Homo sapiens: one gene and its partner. The protein of the gene in region 2 purifies or fractionates together with the protein of the main gene of each other region. This does not show direct contact. Each region holds a gene or a part of one and is shown on either strand. Other genes may lie near its edges.

Region 1 (7,283 bases), on a different chromosome or scaffold from region 2:
ATGTTTAAAAGGTAAATAAATTATTAAATATATAGTTACAAGTTGGGATGGGTGCCATGAAAGGGAACAATAGAAAGAGAACAACAGGGAACACCTACTTTAGGTTGAGTAATCAGGGGAGGCCCCTGAGAAAAGTGTTTGTCAAAACCAAGATCTGCTGGATGAGAAGGAGCCTGCTGCTGAGGGAGCATATTTGTGTGTGTAGGGGAGTGGGTGGACAGAAGGTAACCCGGAGATCTCATGTAGAGATTTGGTGTGTTTTAAGAAGTGAAGGAAAATGCGTGTGGCTGGCACGTAGTCAGTGAAGGGAAGAGTAGTATAAGATAAAGTTGGAGAGTTAATCAAAGAACCAGTCTTGCAAGGACTAAGGCCATGATTAAGAGTTTGAATTTTACCCTAAATTCATTGAGAAGCCCTTGTTAAGATGAGCACTGTTATATGGAGAATGGATTGAAGGGGAAAGAGTAGAAATCAGGCAGTTAGGAGATTCTATAATAGTTCAAATAACAGGTAATGTTATCCAAGGTGATGGATTTGGTAATGCGGACAAGTGGATGAATTCCAGGTATATTTTGAAGATAGATTAAAAGATGACTCCTAGCTTTCTGAAGTATTGGGTTTTCTGATACTCCAGGGGGATGGTAAAGATTGAGGAGGATCATTTTCCATTTGAGCATGTTAGGTTTGTGATGTCTTTAGGGTCTTTAATTGGAGATGTTAAGGAAGTGATTTATGACTATGGCATTCAAAAAAAAGAGGTCTGAGTTAAAAATGAGCACACAAGCCAGTGTTTCTCAACTGTGAGACCCAGGACTCCCTTTAGATAGCTGGTATTTTGGAATCTACCCTTTCTATCCTGGCATGATATTTTTTAGTTAATATATCCTTACAATTAAAAAATCAGTACCACGGTTTAACTATAACAAATAGAAGTATTTGTTTTTGTTGTTATCATTATTATTTTTTTGAGATAGAGTCTTGCTCTTTCACCCAGGCTGGAGTGTAGTGGCACGATCTTGGCTCACTGCAACTTCCGTCACCTGGGTTCAAGCGATTGTCCTGCCTCAGCCTCCAGAGTAGCTGGGATTACAGGTGCTTGCCTCCGCGCCCAGCTAATTTTTGTATTTTTAGTAGCGACGGGGTTTCGCCATGTTGGCCAGGCTGGTCTTGAACTCCTGACCTCAGGTGATCCACCTGCCTTGGTCTCCCAAAGTGCTGGGATTACAGATGTGAGCCACCGCGCCTGGCCTGTTGTTATTATTTTAATATGGAAGTACTTTTTCATGACCATAATAGAAAACATGAAGTAATCAGATGAATCAATGAATTCAGCCTTTGTATGTATTAGACACTGTACTGGATGCTGGGGATATAGCAATAAATTTAAAAAAACTTCATTCACGGAACTTACATTTTAGTGGGAGGAGAGAGTTCATAAATAAGGTAAGTAAGTAAAAGATACAGTATGCTGGATGGTCTAGTTTTCTCTAGATTTTAGCATATACCAAAAATTACTTAAGAATAATATATGGAGAAAATAAAGCTGGGACACAGAATAGGGAGTGCCTCGCCTATGTTAAAACCACGTGAATGTGACTGCTTCTCAAACAGAGTGAGACAGTTGTGTAGTTTTGGCATCTCAGATCTTCATTGCCATTGGTTATCTGATTTTTCAAAATAGTCAACTCATGGGAAAAAGCAGAGTTGCCTCTTGATTTACATGATGGTTGTAGTTCTTGACAATTATGTACATTGAAACCCGATTGTAATACTTCTATCTGTAAAACTGAGGTTCTAGGTAGGGTTTTTTTTCTCTTTTTTTTTTTTTTTTTTGAGACGGAGCTTCGCTCTTGTTGCCCAGGTTGGAGTGCAATGGCGTGATCTCAGCTCACTGTAAACTCTGCCTCTCAGGTTCAAGCGATTCTCCTGCCTCAGCCTCCTGAGTAGCTGGGACTACCAGTGCACCACCATGCCTGGCTAATTTTTTGTATTTTTGTAGAGACAGGGTTTCACCATGTTGCCCAGACTGGTCTTGAACACCTGACCTCAGGTGATCCACCCACATTGGCCTCCCAAAGTGCGGGGATTACAGGCATGAGCCACCACACCTGGTCTTCTAGGTAGGTTTCTTACCCATGTGATTATCTAGTGGCACATTTGAAAATCATGACATGGTAAAAGTCTTCATTGTTGGGAACTCTCTTGCATTGAAGAATACCTGGCATCTCTGGCCCTTCCTCACTTAATGCAATTACTATTTTCCCCAAAACCACTGCTAGAAATGTCTAAAGCTTCTTTAGGAGTTGGAGTTGGTTCTGTCTTTTTTGCAAAGCTTTAGGAGTTGGTTCTGTCTTTTTTGCAAACCTGTGACTTAGGGGAAGGGAGAGAAACAGGATGAATCCTTGAAAAAACTTGATATTAAGAGGTTTATTAGAAGAGGAGGACTAGAGGAAGGAAACTGAGATTGTGAGCCAGTGGGTGGGAGAAAAATGGGGAACATAATGTCTTAGAAGGCAAGAGAGGAAGTTTCTAGAAAGAGGAAGGAAGCTCAATTGTCAGATGTCACTGAGGTCAAGTAAGAAGACAGAAAAATTATTGGATTGGACAACATGGGGGTTGTGACAAGAGGCATGATGAGGGTGGAATCCCATCCTGTAGTGATTTAAAGAGAAAGTACATGGGAAGTGAGGAAGTAGAAAGAGTATGAATAGGCAACTGTTTCAAGATGTATGGCTATGAAGGGGGGAGGAAAAATACTGTGGTGTTTGAGAAGTAGTTTTAGTACTTAAAAAATAAATGAAAAGATACAGAACCTATTTGTGTGCTAATAGGAATAATCCAGTAGAAAGGGGAAAAATTAATGCAGGAAAAGGGGGATAATGAAGGATTACAATATAATAAAGGGATAAATGCTTGATACAGACTTAAGTTCATAGAAGAGGGAGATAATGAAGCGTGGGCTTGTCATGAGAAACCTTTATCCTGGGCCTGGAGGATGGTAAAATTTACAAAGGCAGAGAGAAAAAGGAAGAAAAAATTTTCAGGTGACTAGGACAAACTTGATAAAAGCAAAAGAACAGAGTATGTATTGATGTAATTGAATGTATTTCAATTGAATGAATTTCATTCATATGTGATTGAAAGGAAGATTCTTGTTGAATAGAAGTGGGAAATAAATCTGGCTAGGAAAGGGGGATACAGATTACTGAGTAGTCCAAAAATTAGGAGGAGAGGTCAATACAGTTGAAGCTGTCTTAACAACCTCCGTTAAGTGACTCATTGCAATCCTCAGCGTTCTGCATCCTTCCATAAAGCGTATTCGTAAATACTCCTCTGGGTAAGACTACTCTCCAGTGTGTCTGGAGTTTCCCATCAGTTGGCTGATATACTTTACCAAGAGGCAGTTGTGTTTATTCCCAAATCTGCTTATGTCAACTGTATTTCTTACTATATTTTATTTAAACCTTATATAAATGAGTGAATGTAAAGACATGGAAATGGTTACTAAAAATAGCTCTTGAATTAGGTGGAGAAAAGACTGTAAAAAATAGAGGATTCTTTGTTCGTACTTTTTAAAGCAACCCAAACTGGAAATCAGAGATGAATGTGGCTTATGCAAAAAAAGATGACTAAACAGTTGACTTTTACACAAAGAAGAGGTCTTAGCCTTACATTAAAAGACAGGAATGAATGTTTGTTTATATGTTTTATCTTAAAATGTTTACAGTTTGTATTATTTTTAGTGATCCTCTAATTTAACCAAGTTATTTGATTAACTGATCAAGTATTGGTCCTGGTTGCATTGATTGAGAGAATTTCCACTATATATGACGTCAGGAGTGTAGGGACCCAGTGAAGACCAAATAATTCTTCAAGACGAGTAGTCTTGCAGGAATCTCTAGAGTAAGATGGGGTTCTGTACAAGCGAAGTATTAATGGAAATATATCTGAATGTTAATGTGTGTTACCAATTGTTTGGCTAAACTACATTGTCATCTTGTGTTTTTCTAGGAACCTTTGAGGGAACAGGGAGAGGAAAGTAAATATTTAATGAATATTTCCTATGTGCAGACATTTTGCTAGGTCTCTACATGTGTTATATCATGTAATGCTCACTTACAATCCCACTTTTCAGAGGAGGAAGCCAATTTAAATAACAGGTTAATAACTTTCTCAAGGTAATTTAGCTAATGAGTAGGTAAAGAGAATGCTTTACTTTACTGGGGGAAATCTCCATTAAAATCCCTGATGTTCTTTAACAGAGTTATAAGGCATTCATTTAATTGCTGAGTAATAAAATGTCCTTTTAATTAAATTAAGACTAAGTGAACCGAGATTCTTCTGTACTAGAGTGGAAATCATCCAATGTTGGCAAAATACACACTCCAGCCTTTTTCTTTTTGTTTCTTGTCCTTTATTTGTTTTCTTGTTTGAAAGACTGGGTCTTGCTCTGTTGCCCAGGCCTGAATGCAGCAGCCTTGAACTCCTGGCTTCAAGCTCCTCTTGCCTTAGCTTCTTGAGTAGCAGGGACTCCAGGCACGCACCACCCTGCCTGGCTGATGACTTTTCCTTTTTTCTAAAGTCTTTTTTGTTTGTTTAAAGCAGTTTGTGGACTATCGGATCTTTATTTAGAATGAACAGTTGCACAACAACAAAAAGGCACAGTATAGCACAACTGTTATAGTGGGACAAAACTGTAGAGTGCTCTAAACTTGTCACTTAAAAAATCATGTACTACTTTTGGCAGTTGAGCCAAAACCCTTAAGTATATTGCTTTTGAATGATTTTGAATGTTTTTATAAATCCTAACAGTATTTTACTTCATATAAAGCAGCTTTAGATAAATTAAACAATAAGTATTTCCATCATGCCTTGAATATTTAAATGGAATGAAAATTAAATTAGTAATTAAACAAGAACCTCTATTCTTCCTTTTTCCTCATTAAGTTTCATTTCTTTATCATTGTGATTAAAAAAATTATGCAAGTAATACTTGAATGCTCCCCATTAAAAAAGATTGAAACACTCAAATATAACTCGAAAACCCCTTACTTTCTTCTTACACCACTGTACTCTATTTCCTACACCCTATCAGTCCCTTCTTCAGAGATAATTGCTGTCAGTTCTTTGGCTTATGTTAATCTATTCTTCATCCTCTTAACAAATACTTGTATATCTATATCACATTTTTAGAAACAAATATAATCATACTTTATATATTCTGCTACTTGTTTTTTCAGTTATTGTGTAATATCTTCTAGTGACAGTACATATAGTCGACTCCATTATTTATAGGGCACATGATTTGTTCAGTCACTTTCCTGCTGAATGACTATATTTTTGGTGGGGAGGGCTTATGTGAAAGTACTTCTGTAGGTTAAATTCCTGGTAGCAAACCTAGGATTCTGTAATTTGAATGAAAATAAAGTTATTGCCATTTTTATTTTAATTTTTGATGTTTTTGAATTTTAAAATAATGCATTTAAAATAGGTAGTATTATGCATGGTTCAAAATTCAAAAGGTACAAAGTGAGTCAGCTTCTCTTTCACAGCCTCTCCTTTAACCAACCTCTTCTGCTGTTTGTAGTGGCCATTGTTACTATTTCTTGTATATACTTCTAGAAATAATGTGCGCATATACAGACATATAACTATTATATGAATTCTGTCTTTTTTTTTTTTGTGCTGAAGAATGCCATATATCTGCAGTAGAAAGATGTATCTTGGAAGTTGTTCCTTACCAGTGCATGGAGAACTGCTTTATTCTATTTAGTGCTACATTGTGTTGCTTTACCATAAATTTAATTAGTTCCATATTGACAGATATTTAACTTGTTTCCAAGCTTTTGCTACAGTAATGCTGCTGATATATGCCATTGTGTACCTCTGTGGGATAAATTCTAAGAAGTAGAATTGCTAGCTTAAAAGGGATTTAAGGCATTTAAAATTTTGATGTGTTTTCAAAGTCTCTGTAGAGATTGTTCTACAACTCCTACCAGCAAAGCATGACAGTACCGCACCAATTCTGTTTTCAAATCTTTTGGTCTTTGCCAGCCTGATAAGTAAAAATATTTTAGTTTGCATTTCTCTTAGTATGAATGAGGTTGATCATCTTTTGATGTGGTTAAAGACAGCTGTATTTCCATTTCTGTGACTTACCTGATCATATCCTTTGCCTATTTTTTCTATTGGGTTGTTGATCTTTTATTGCTCTCTATATGCTCTTTAGAAACGGAGGAAGTTAGTTCTTTGTGATGTGTGGAGCTGGTCAAGCAGAGCAATGGGTGATTGCTTGTTGTGGGTATTATTATTAGTCTACAATCTTACCTGGATCCATCTGTACCTTCTTCCCTTTGTCCCAGAGGATAATAGTCTTTTGTCCCCTTTATGGTTTATCCTTCTATTGGTTGGCTGACATTAAAATTTACTTTTATTCACATTTTTGATATTCATATGTGAATAATTTCTTATTTGTTTTTAGGTAAAATTTGGTAATACCACCTTTAAAACAGATGTGTACCTTAAGTCACTCAACCCTCAGTGGAACTCGGAGTGGTTTAAATTTGAGGTAAGTTTTTAAATGTCAGCATTTTTGAGTGTATTTTTTTGAGGTGACTCTTTTCCCTCAGGAATAATGAGAACCTTTTATTTCAGGCATAGTAGTATTTCTACATCACAAAAATATTTTCTTTTCTGCTTACCTAGGAATATTGAGTCTAAAAAAAGTTGTATTACATTTAAGAAAATACAGTATATGATAACACATTAACAAAAGAAGTCTTCAGATGTATTATATTATTATTATTGTAGTTTTCTCTAGATTTTAGCACATACCAAAAATTACTTAAGAATAATATATGGATTAAAATAAATTTTTAAAAATTGTAGTACTATATATTGTGAATATTGCCATTTAAATCATTTGTAAGTGTACAGTTTGGTAGCATTAATTACATTCACAGTGTTTTGCTACCATCACCGCTATTTCCAGAACTTTTTCTTTATCCTAAATGGAAATTGTGTACTCACTAACCAATAACTTCCCATTCCCTCCTCTCCCTAGACTCTGGTGACCTCTAATCTACTTTCTGTCTCTTTGAATTTGCTTATGCTAGATATTTCATATAAATGGAGTCATATAATACTTGTCCTGTTGTATCTGCTTTCTTTTACTCAGCATAATGTTTTCAGGGTTCATCCACACTGTAACATGTATCAGAATTTTATTCCTTCTTATGGCTGAATAATAACCCATTGTATGTGTATGCCACATTTTATTTTCT
Region 2 (7,625 bases):
CTCCCTTTCCCCAGGGCCTGTGCTTGAACCTGAGGCACTGCACACCCCCACACTCATGACCACACCCTCCCTAACTCCTTTCACCCCCAGCCTGGTCTTCACCTACCCCAGCACTCCTGAGCCTTGTGCCTCAGCTCATCGCAAGAGTAGCAGCAGCAGCGGAGACCCATCCTCTGACCCCCTTGGCTCTCCAACCCTCCTCGCTTTGTGAGGCGCCTGAGCCCTACTCCCTGCAGATGCCACCCTAGCCAATGTCTCCTCCCCTTCCCCCACCGGTCCAGCTGGCCTGGACAGTATCCCACATCCAACTCCAGCAACTTCTTCTCCATCCCTCTAATGAGACTGACCATATTGTGCTTCACAGTAGAGCCAGCTTGGGGCCACCAAAGCTGCCCACTGTTTCTCTTGAGCTGGCCTCTCTAGCACAATTTGCACTAAATCAGAGACAAAATATTTCCCATTTGTGCCAGAGGAATCCTGGCAGCCCAGAGACTTTGTAGATCCTTAGAGGTCCTCTGGAGCCCTAACCCCTTCCAGATCACTGCCACACTCTCCATCACCCTCTTCCTGTGATCCACCCAACCCTATCTCCTGACAGAAGGTGCCACTTTACCCACCTAGAACACTAACTCACCAGCCCCACTGCCAGCAGCAGCAGGTGATTGGACCAGGCCATTCTGCCGCCCCCTCCTGAACCGCACAGCTCAGGAGGCGCCCTTGGCTTCTGTGATGAGCTGATCTGCGGATCTCAGCTTTGAGAAGCCTTCAGCTCCAGGGAATCCAAGCCTCCACAGCGAGGGCAGCTGCTATTTATTTTCCTAAAGAGAGTATTTTTATACAAACCTACCAAAATGGAATAAAAGGCTTGAAGCTGTGGCCTGAGTGCCTCACTGGACCCAGAGGCCAATGGGAGAGTATTTGGAGCCCTAGGTCCCAGCCTTAGCTCTACAGACTCACTGCATGACCTTGGACAAATTCTTTGATATTTTTGGACTTTGTCTTATCTGACAAGTGGGGCTACATCCGCTCGGCCTCATCTCCGGGACTGAGGGGAGACAGTCCTCTGGGGTAAAAGCGAAGAGGCTTACCGCCCCTCTCCCCGTGGGGGCCCACAGTGCTGCTGCGTGTGCCACGGAGGGGCGCTGTTATGCCCCCTTCCAGCCTCAGAGGAGGCGGCCGAGTGGTTCTAGGCCCCCAGCACCTGCTTCCTGCCCCATTGTCTTGGACAGGAAGGAGCCGGGAAGGGAGCTGGAGCCACTTCAGGGGCTGGATTAAGGCCGGTCCCGGCGCCCGATGGGGGAAGTCTGGTTTACCACTGCCCCGCATCCCACCCCAGGCTCGAAGTAATGGGGGAATCATTAGTTCTGCAGTCCTTCTGGATGGGAATTGTACCCTGTATCAGCACCCCACCCTCGCCCCAACCCCGGCGAGTACCAAACAGACGCTGCCCAGGCCGTGGGCTCCGCTTCCGTCCGGGTTTATTACCCCCAATCCAACCCCCAGCAAGTCCCTCCGCTCCAGCCTTCAGTCCCCCTGCTGCCCTGCCAGCAAGAGCGAGGGGCCCTTCTTGGTGTCAGGATTTCTTAGTCCATGCCAGCGGCCCCTCCTGCGCAGCCAGGACGGCGTCCAGGTCCCGAGGTCCACAGCGGTCCCGGGGCTCGGGGAGCAATCCGGGCGGGCGTCGGCGTGGAGGAAGCAGTGCCTTCAATCATCGGGGGAACAGGCCAGGGGCAACTGATCCGGACTGCCCACGCTGCCAGTGCTGGAGCTTCCATCGCCTAGGTCGCGGGGCCCGCACGGGGGCAAGGCAAGCTCGGGTGCTGGCCCGGCTCCTGATCCCCCGGCGCCGCTGGGGCCGCCGCGGGGGCCCCATTCTTCGCCCAGCGCCAGGCAGAGCTCCTTAAGCGCTAGGTTCTCCCGCAGCAGCTCCTCCTGGCGGCCCTCCAGCTCGGCCAGCTTCTGCCAACAGCCGCCCAGGTCCTCGCGCACGGCCCGGGATGCTTGGGTCCCGAAGAGCTGCCACTGGCGTGCGGCGCGCCGCCCGCGCTGGCGCTCCGAGTCCAGGAAGCAGCAGAGGTCGCGCAGCTCACGGTTCTCTGCCTGCAGACGCCGGTTGAGCTGCTTGAGCTCGCGGATCTCGCCCAGGTGGCCCTGCAGCTGCCGATTCACCTCCTGCATGAGGCGGCCGCGCTGCACCAGTGCCGCCAGGCGCGCCGCCTCCTCCCGCCGCAGGCGCCGCACTAGCTCTTCCTTGCCTAGCGCCGCCATCTCCTCGTCCGTCAGCTCCTCCAGGCCGCCTGCCTCGGCCTCCATGGCTGGTCAGGCCTCTGGAGCATCGCCCGCCCGCCGCCGCGGCCCAGGAGCCCCACGTCGGGCCCGGCGCCACTCAGGCTCGGGCTCCGGCTCCGCACGCGGCAGGCAGTGGCCGAGGCAGCGTAGGCTGCAGCAGCTACCCGGGCTGGGCACGCGGCGGGGCGCGCGCCGGGGCGGGGCCGCATGTCGTTATGGAAGGACAGCCAATCCGGTGAAACGTCCCCGGAAAGGGGCGGGGCCTGAGCTCAGGGGCCGCCCCCCTCGTTCCCCACCCACTCCGGGTGTTACTGATCCTCGATGTCAAGGAACCCGCGCGTCATCGCCCTCCACATCGGTCTCAACCCGAAACTAGGAGCTTCGAACCTCCAAGTACCGGATCGCCCCAAGCTTGAGCCTAGGCCTCTCGGCTCTTCTGAGAAACAAGATTCAGGCGTCCGCCCCTGACTCCTGCCCATCCCCCACAGAAGTCAGATGGACCGCTCTCCAGTCCCTCTTTACCTTTGATCAAATTCGGAAGTCTCGGCCCACTAAGGATCGCTCCTGGTTCCTCGGAACCCTGAGTCCAAACGTCCTAGCTCACCAATAGACTACCCTCCCTCCCAGGGAGCGTTTCCTGCCTGGGGGGAGGAACATACAGGATTCGTTTGTTCAATAAACGTTTTTTATGTGCAAGGCCCATGCAGAAATAAATTTAACCAAAATACCGATTCCATCCTCAAGGAGGTCGCAGTCTGTCCGGGAAGTCAAGCTGTGTTAAGCAAGAAATAAATCCGGGAGGAGTATGGTCTGAGGGTCCTTAAGAGGGTTCCCAAAAGAGATGCTATCCAAGAGGCTCTGGTAGATCCATAGGACTTTGCCAAGTAAAGAGCTATTTCAGGGAGAGAGAATAACATAGTGAAAGACACTGGTGCCCGAAAGAGCCTAGCTGCTTTAGGAACAATGAGGATAGCTTGGTTTTTGAAAAGCAGATGTGTCGAGAAAATGCTAAGAGAGAGAGAGCGAGGCTTCAAAGGTAGGTAAAAGCCAGATTCTTAAGAACTTCCAGTACCAGGTTGGAGCATTTCCAAAGGCCACTAAGGATGTTAAGCAAGAGAGTAACATTTGTAAGGATGTTAAGCAAGGGAGTAACATTTTAAAATATGCCTTTAACTGGCCAAGATGGTGAAACCCCGTTTCTACTAAAAATACAAAAATTAGCCGGGCGTGGTGGGAGGAGCCTGTAATCTCAGCTACTCGGGAGGCTGAGGCAGAGAACTGCTTGAACCCGGGAGGCGGAGGTTGCAGTGAGCCGAGATCGCGCCACTGCACTCCAGCCTGGGCGACAGAGCGAGACGCTGTCTCGAAAAAAAAAATGTATTTAAAAAGATTGGGCTGATCTGTGTGGGCCGGACCCTGCGGGGAGGGGACATAAACAGGGAGATTAGTAACGGTGTCAAAGAGCAAGAGCAAGGAGAGCTAAGCAGAAAGACGGCTGGGGCAGCATCAGTGGGGGTGGAGAGGACAAACAGATACTAGAAATATTCGGGAGGCAAATCAGCCGAACTGAATGTGGGGAGAGAGGAGTCTGGAAGAACGCCCAGGTTTCTCGTATGAGAACTGGTGGATGTTAGGGCTGTCACTGAGATAGGGACGCAGGAAAGAAACAAATGGGGAGAGGCAGAGGTCTGTCTAGAATATGTTGAGCTTTTGAGGGGCTTACGGGAAGAGTGTGGATAGACTTGGCCGATAGGCGGCCCCTCCGGATGTGGACTTCCAGGCAGAGCTCGGAGGGGCAGAATTAGAGACGTCAGTAGCTCGTGGGGCTGGGGGTGGGATTAAAACCAAGGTGGGAGCAGGTGCCCCAAACCCAGGAGAGGTGCTCATGCGCAGGATGGACAAACCAGTCTCCAGCAAGAGCCCGAGGAAGTCGGGTCATACCCCATTTTTGCGGAGATTTAGGATAGAGCCCTGTGAAACCCCTAAGTTTAGGATACAGGTCAAACTTAGGAGGTCCCGAAGAGGGCAGAGAAGGTGGGAGAAAAGCCAGGAGGAAGTGAGGGGAGAAGTTACGGGGACCGAGGAGACGAAGAGGAGGCACTCCCTTCGTGCTCCTGCAGACGGCCGGGGAGGGAGACAGGACGCAGGAGCCCGGGACTCCCCCTCCCGGCGGGAGGAAGCGGTGCTCCTCCGCGCAGGCCTCCCCCTCTCTTCCCTCGCCGCTCCCGCCCCGTCCCCTCCCCGACTGGCTGTGTCCCGGAAGTGGTCATAAGCTGGGTCCCGATGCCGCGAGCGGAATCTCGGCGCTCCCGGAAGTGGCCTGAAGGCGGCGCGCCAGTCCCGAGCAGTGCTCGCTCCTGCTCGGGGCGCTGCGGCCCCGGGCGTCGCCATGACCAGTGAGCTGGACATCTTCGTGGGGAACACGACCCTTATCGACGAGGACGTGTATCGCCTCTGGCTCGATGGTTACTCGGGTCCGTGAGGGGCGTGTGGGGAAGCCAGTCGGCGGAGCGGTTGTGTTGAATGGGAGAGGGGGCGGGGCTAAGACTTGGGCATCCTTTAGGGAAGTGGGCGAGCGCCTGGGAATAAGAGGTGTTATAGGGGTCTGGGATGGAAACCCTTAAGGGCCTCTGGCGTCGGCGGGGCGGGGCCTGATGCTAGCGTCCGCTTTCCAGTGACCGACGCGGTGGCCCTGCGGGTGCGCTCGGGAATCCTGGAGCAGACTGGCGCCACGGCAGCGGTGCTGCAGAGCGACACCATGGACCATTACCGCACCTTCCACATGCTCGAGCGGCTGCTGCATGCGCCGCCCAAGCTACTGCACCAGCTCATCTTCCAGATTCCGCCCTCCCGGCAGGCACTACTCATCGAGAGGTGCTCACCCTCTGGGATGGTGGAGACATCAACCAGTCTGACTGTATACCCATTTTGCCGGCTGAAACAGGCCCAGGGAGGGATGGGATTTACCCAGCCATCAGAAAGTTGAGAGTGGAAGGGGTCAGACCTAGGCCCTGCTAGGCCCCGCCAGACTCCCTTTCCTGTCTTTTATGGAGGGTCAATGGTGTTCTCTGACTCCACAAGGTACTATGCCTTTGATGAGGCCTTTGTTCGGGAGGTGCTGGGCAAGAAGCTGTCCAAAGGCACCAAGAAAGACCTGGATGACATCAGCACCAAAACAGGCATCACCCTCAAGAGCTGCCGGAGACAGGTATGCACTGCATCCACACGGACACAGCATCCCATCTACACTTCACTCCCTCCCTTTGGCCACTGGCCCAGTTCCAGCCTCTGATTGTGGCAGCAGCTTCATACCTAGTCTTCTCCTCCCTTCCCCTTTCCCCTCCTTTTTTTTTTTTTTTTTCGAGATGGAGTCTTGCTCTGTGGCCCAAGCTGGAGTGCAGTGGCGCGACCTCAGCTCACTGCAACCTCCGCCTCCTGGGTTCAGGTAATTCTTGTGCCTCAGCCTCTGCAGTAGCTGAGATTACAGGCGCCCGCTCCCACACCCAGCTAATTTTTGTATTGTTAGTAGAGACAGGGTTTCACCATGTTGGCCAGGCTTGTCTTGAACTCCTGGCCTCAAGTGATCATCCGCCTCGGCCTCCCAAAGTGCTGACATTACAGGCGTGAGCCACCGTGCCTGGCTCCCTGTTGTGCCTTCCAAGCTATCCTGTACTGTATGGCCAGAGTGACCTTTCAGAATGACCTGAAATTTTATCAGACCCCTGATAAACTTTCATTGGCTCCCACTGCCTCCTGGGTAGCAGCTGCACTCCTTGGCTTTGACCTATGGACTGTCCTGTTATCTCATCCCTGCAGACCTCTCTAGGCTTACATTTCTCCAGCCCCAGGCTTTCCTTTACTCATGTTGCTTCTACCTGGAGGGTACTGTTCTTGGCAATATCTACCCCTTGAAATCCAAGACAAGAGGTGAGATGCCACCTTCTCCACAAGCCTTTTTGGTACGCCAGGAAGAAGTAACCCTTCTGGGTCTTTGATGCCTTTCTTTTGTATCTCCTGTGAGCTTTCTGTTTATAGCTTAGCATTTGTTTTTTATTTTTTAGTTTCTAGGGCTTAGCCAGGAAAGTCTCTTCCAACTCAAACTTGTGAAGATCTGGAGAGCATGGTGCTAAAATGGGGTTGGATTTAGAGATAAGATTGAGTAAACATTTATCCAAGGCAAGATACAGCAGGAGTTGCTAAGCATTTGATTTGATAACAAGTACTAATAACTAATAGTTGGTTGAAGGAATAACAAATGCTAAATCAGCATCTGCTGACTGGATAGGTGGATGGGGAAGGGAGAGATGTTCAATAAGTGGTTTATTGGGTGAGCGACACAGTGTACACTCTGACCAGTCCTCTCTTCTACCCTAACTGCCCTGCAGTTTGACAACTTTAAACGGGTCTTCAAGGTGGTAGAGGAAATGCGGGGCTCCCTGGTGGACAATATTCAGCAACACTTCCTCCTCTCTGACCGGTTGGCCAGGTGAGGAGCTAGCCACCTCCCCATCCCGCACACTACTTCCTGGGCCCGGAGGCTCGTCCACCTTCCCTACCCCAAACCTTCTGACCTCCTGAGTATGCTGGGGGAATGATTATCCCACTTTTGGTCTGTACTTTTTTTTTTTTTTTTTTTTTAATGAGACGGAGTTTCACTCTTGTTGCCCAGGCTGGAATGCAATGGTGCAATCTTGGCTCACTGCAACCTCTGCCTCCTGGTTCAAGCAATTCTGCCTCAGCCTCCCGAGTAGCTGGGATTACAGGCTTGAGCCACCGCACCCAGCTTGGTCTGTACTTTGGACCAGACTGACCTGGATTCAAAGCACAGTCCAGCGATTTCCAGCTGGGCTGTTGAGAGGTACCATATGTAAAGCCCATGGCACAGCCCTGGCACTTAGGAAGTGCTCAGTAGATAGTAACTGTTACCCTTATGGTCTCCCACTGTATCCACTAGTAAACTTGAGCTGGAACCTTCTCTTCGCACAGATGGGGAAGGGTCATAGAGAAGTGACTTGAGACACGTCACACAGTGACTTGAGGCAGAGAGAGGCCAGAACTCGGACACCCAGCTGAGGTTGCAGGTGGGAGCTGCTTCCTAAGAAGGAATTTCAAGCCCTAAGAGGACCCTCCTCTCGTCTGTGCAGGGACTATGCAGCCATCGTCTTCTTTGCTAACAACCGCTTTGAGACAGGGAAGAAAAAACTGCAGTATCTGAGCTTCGGTGACTTTGCCTTCTGCGCTGAGCTCATGATCCAAAACTGGACCCTTGGAGCCGTCGGTGAGGCCCCCACTGACCCAGGTGCCTGGACGCCTCCCCATCCTCAGGACCTGATTCC

Evidence for each region.
Region 1: the proteins of FIBP (region 2) and C2CD5 purify together in Homo sapiens (affinity purification with mass spectrometry; 5 studies listed by BioGRID and IntAct, with this or other methods). This does not show direct contact.

What each region holds. Positions count from the first base shown.
Region 1 is NC_000012.12:22,534,543-22,541,825, reverse strand, and holds part of C2CD5 (C2 domain-containing protein 5), read left to right. Parts: intron 1-6,481; coding exon 6,482-6,568; intron 6,569-7,283. UniProt on the Homo sapiens protein: Required for insulin-stimulated glucose transport and glucose transporter SLC2A4/GLUT4 translocation from intracellular glucose storage vesicle (GSV) to the plasma membrane (PM) in adipocytes.
Region 2 is NC_000011.10:65,885,472-65,893,096, reverse strand, and holds the start of FIBP (acidic fibroblast growth factor intracellular-binding protein), read left to right. Parts: upstream 1-4,625; 5' UTR 4,626-4,678; coding exon 4,679-4,763; intron 4,764-4,964; coding exon 4,965-5,163; intron 5,164-5,370; coding exon 5,371-5,497; intron 5,498-6,674; coding exon 6,675-6,775; intron 6,776-7,433; coding exon 7,434-7,567; coding exon of another isoform or gene 7,568-7,588; intron 7,589-7,625. Other genes in the region: FOSL1 (fos-related antigen 1), read left to right, coding at 1-211; CCDC85B (coiled-coil domain-containing protein 85B), read right to left, coding at 1,705-2,313. UniProt on the Homo sapiens protein: May be involved in mitogenic function of FGF1. May mediate with IER2 FGF-signaling in the establishment of laterality in the embryo.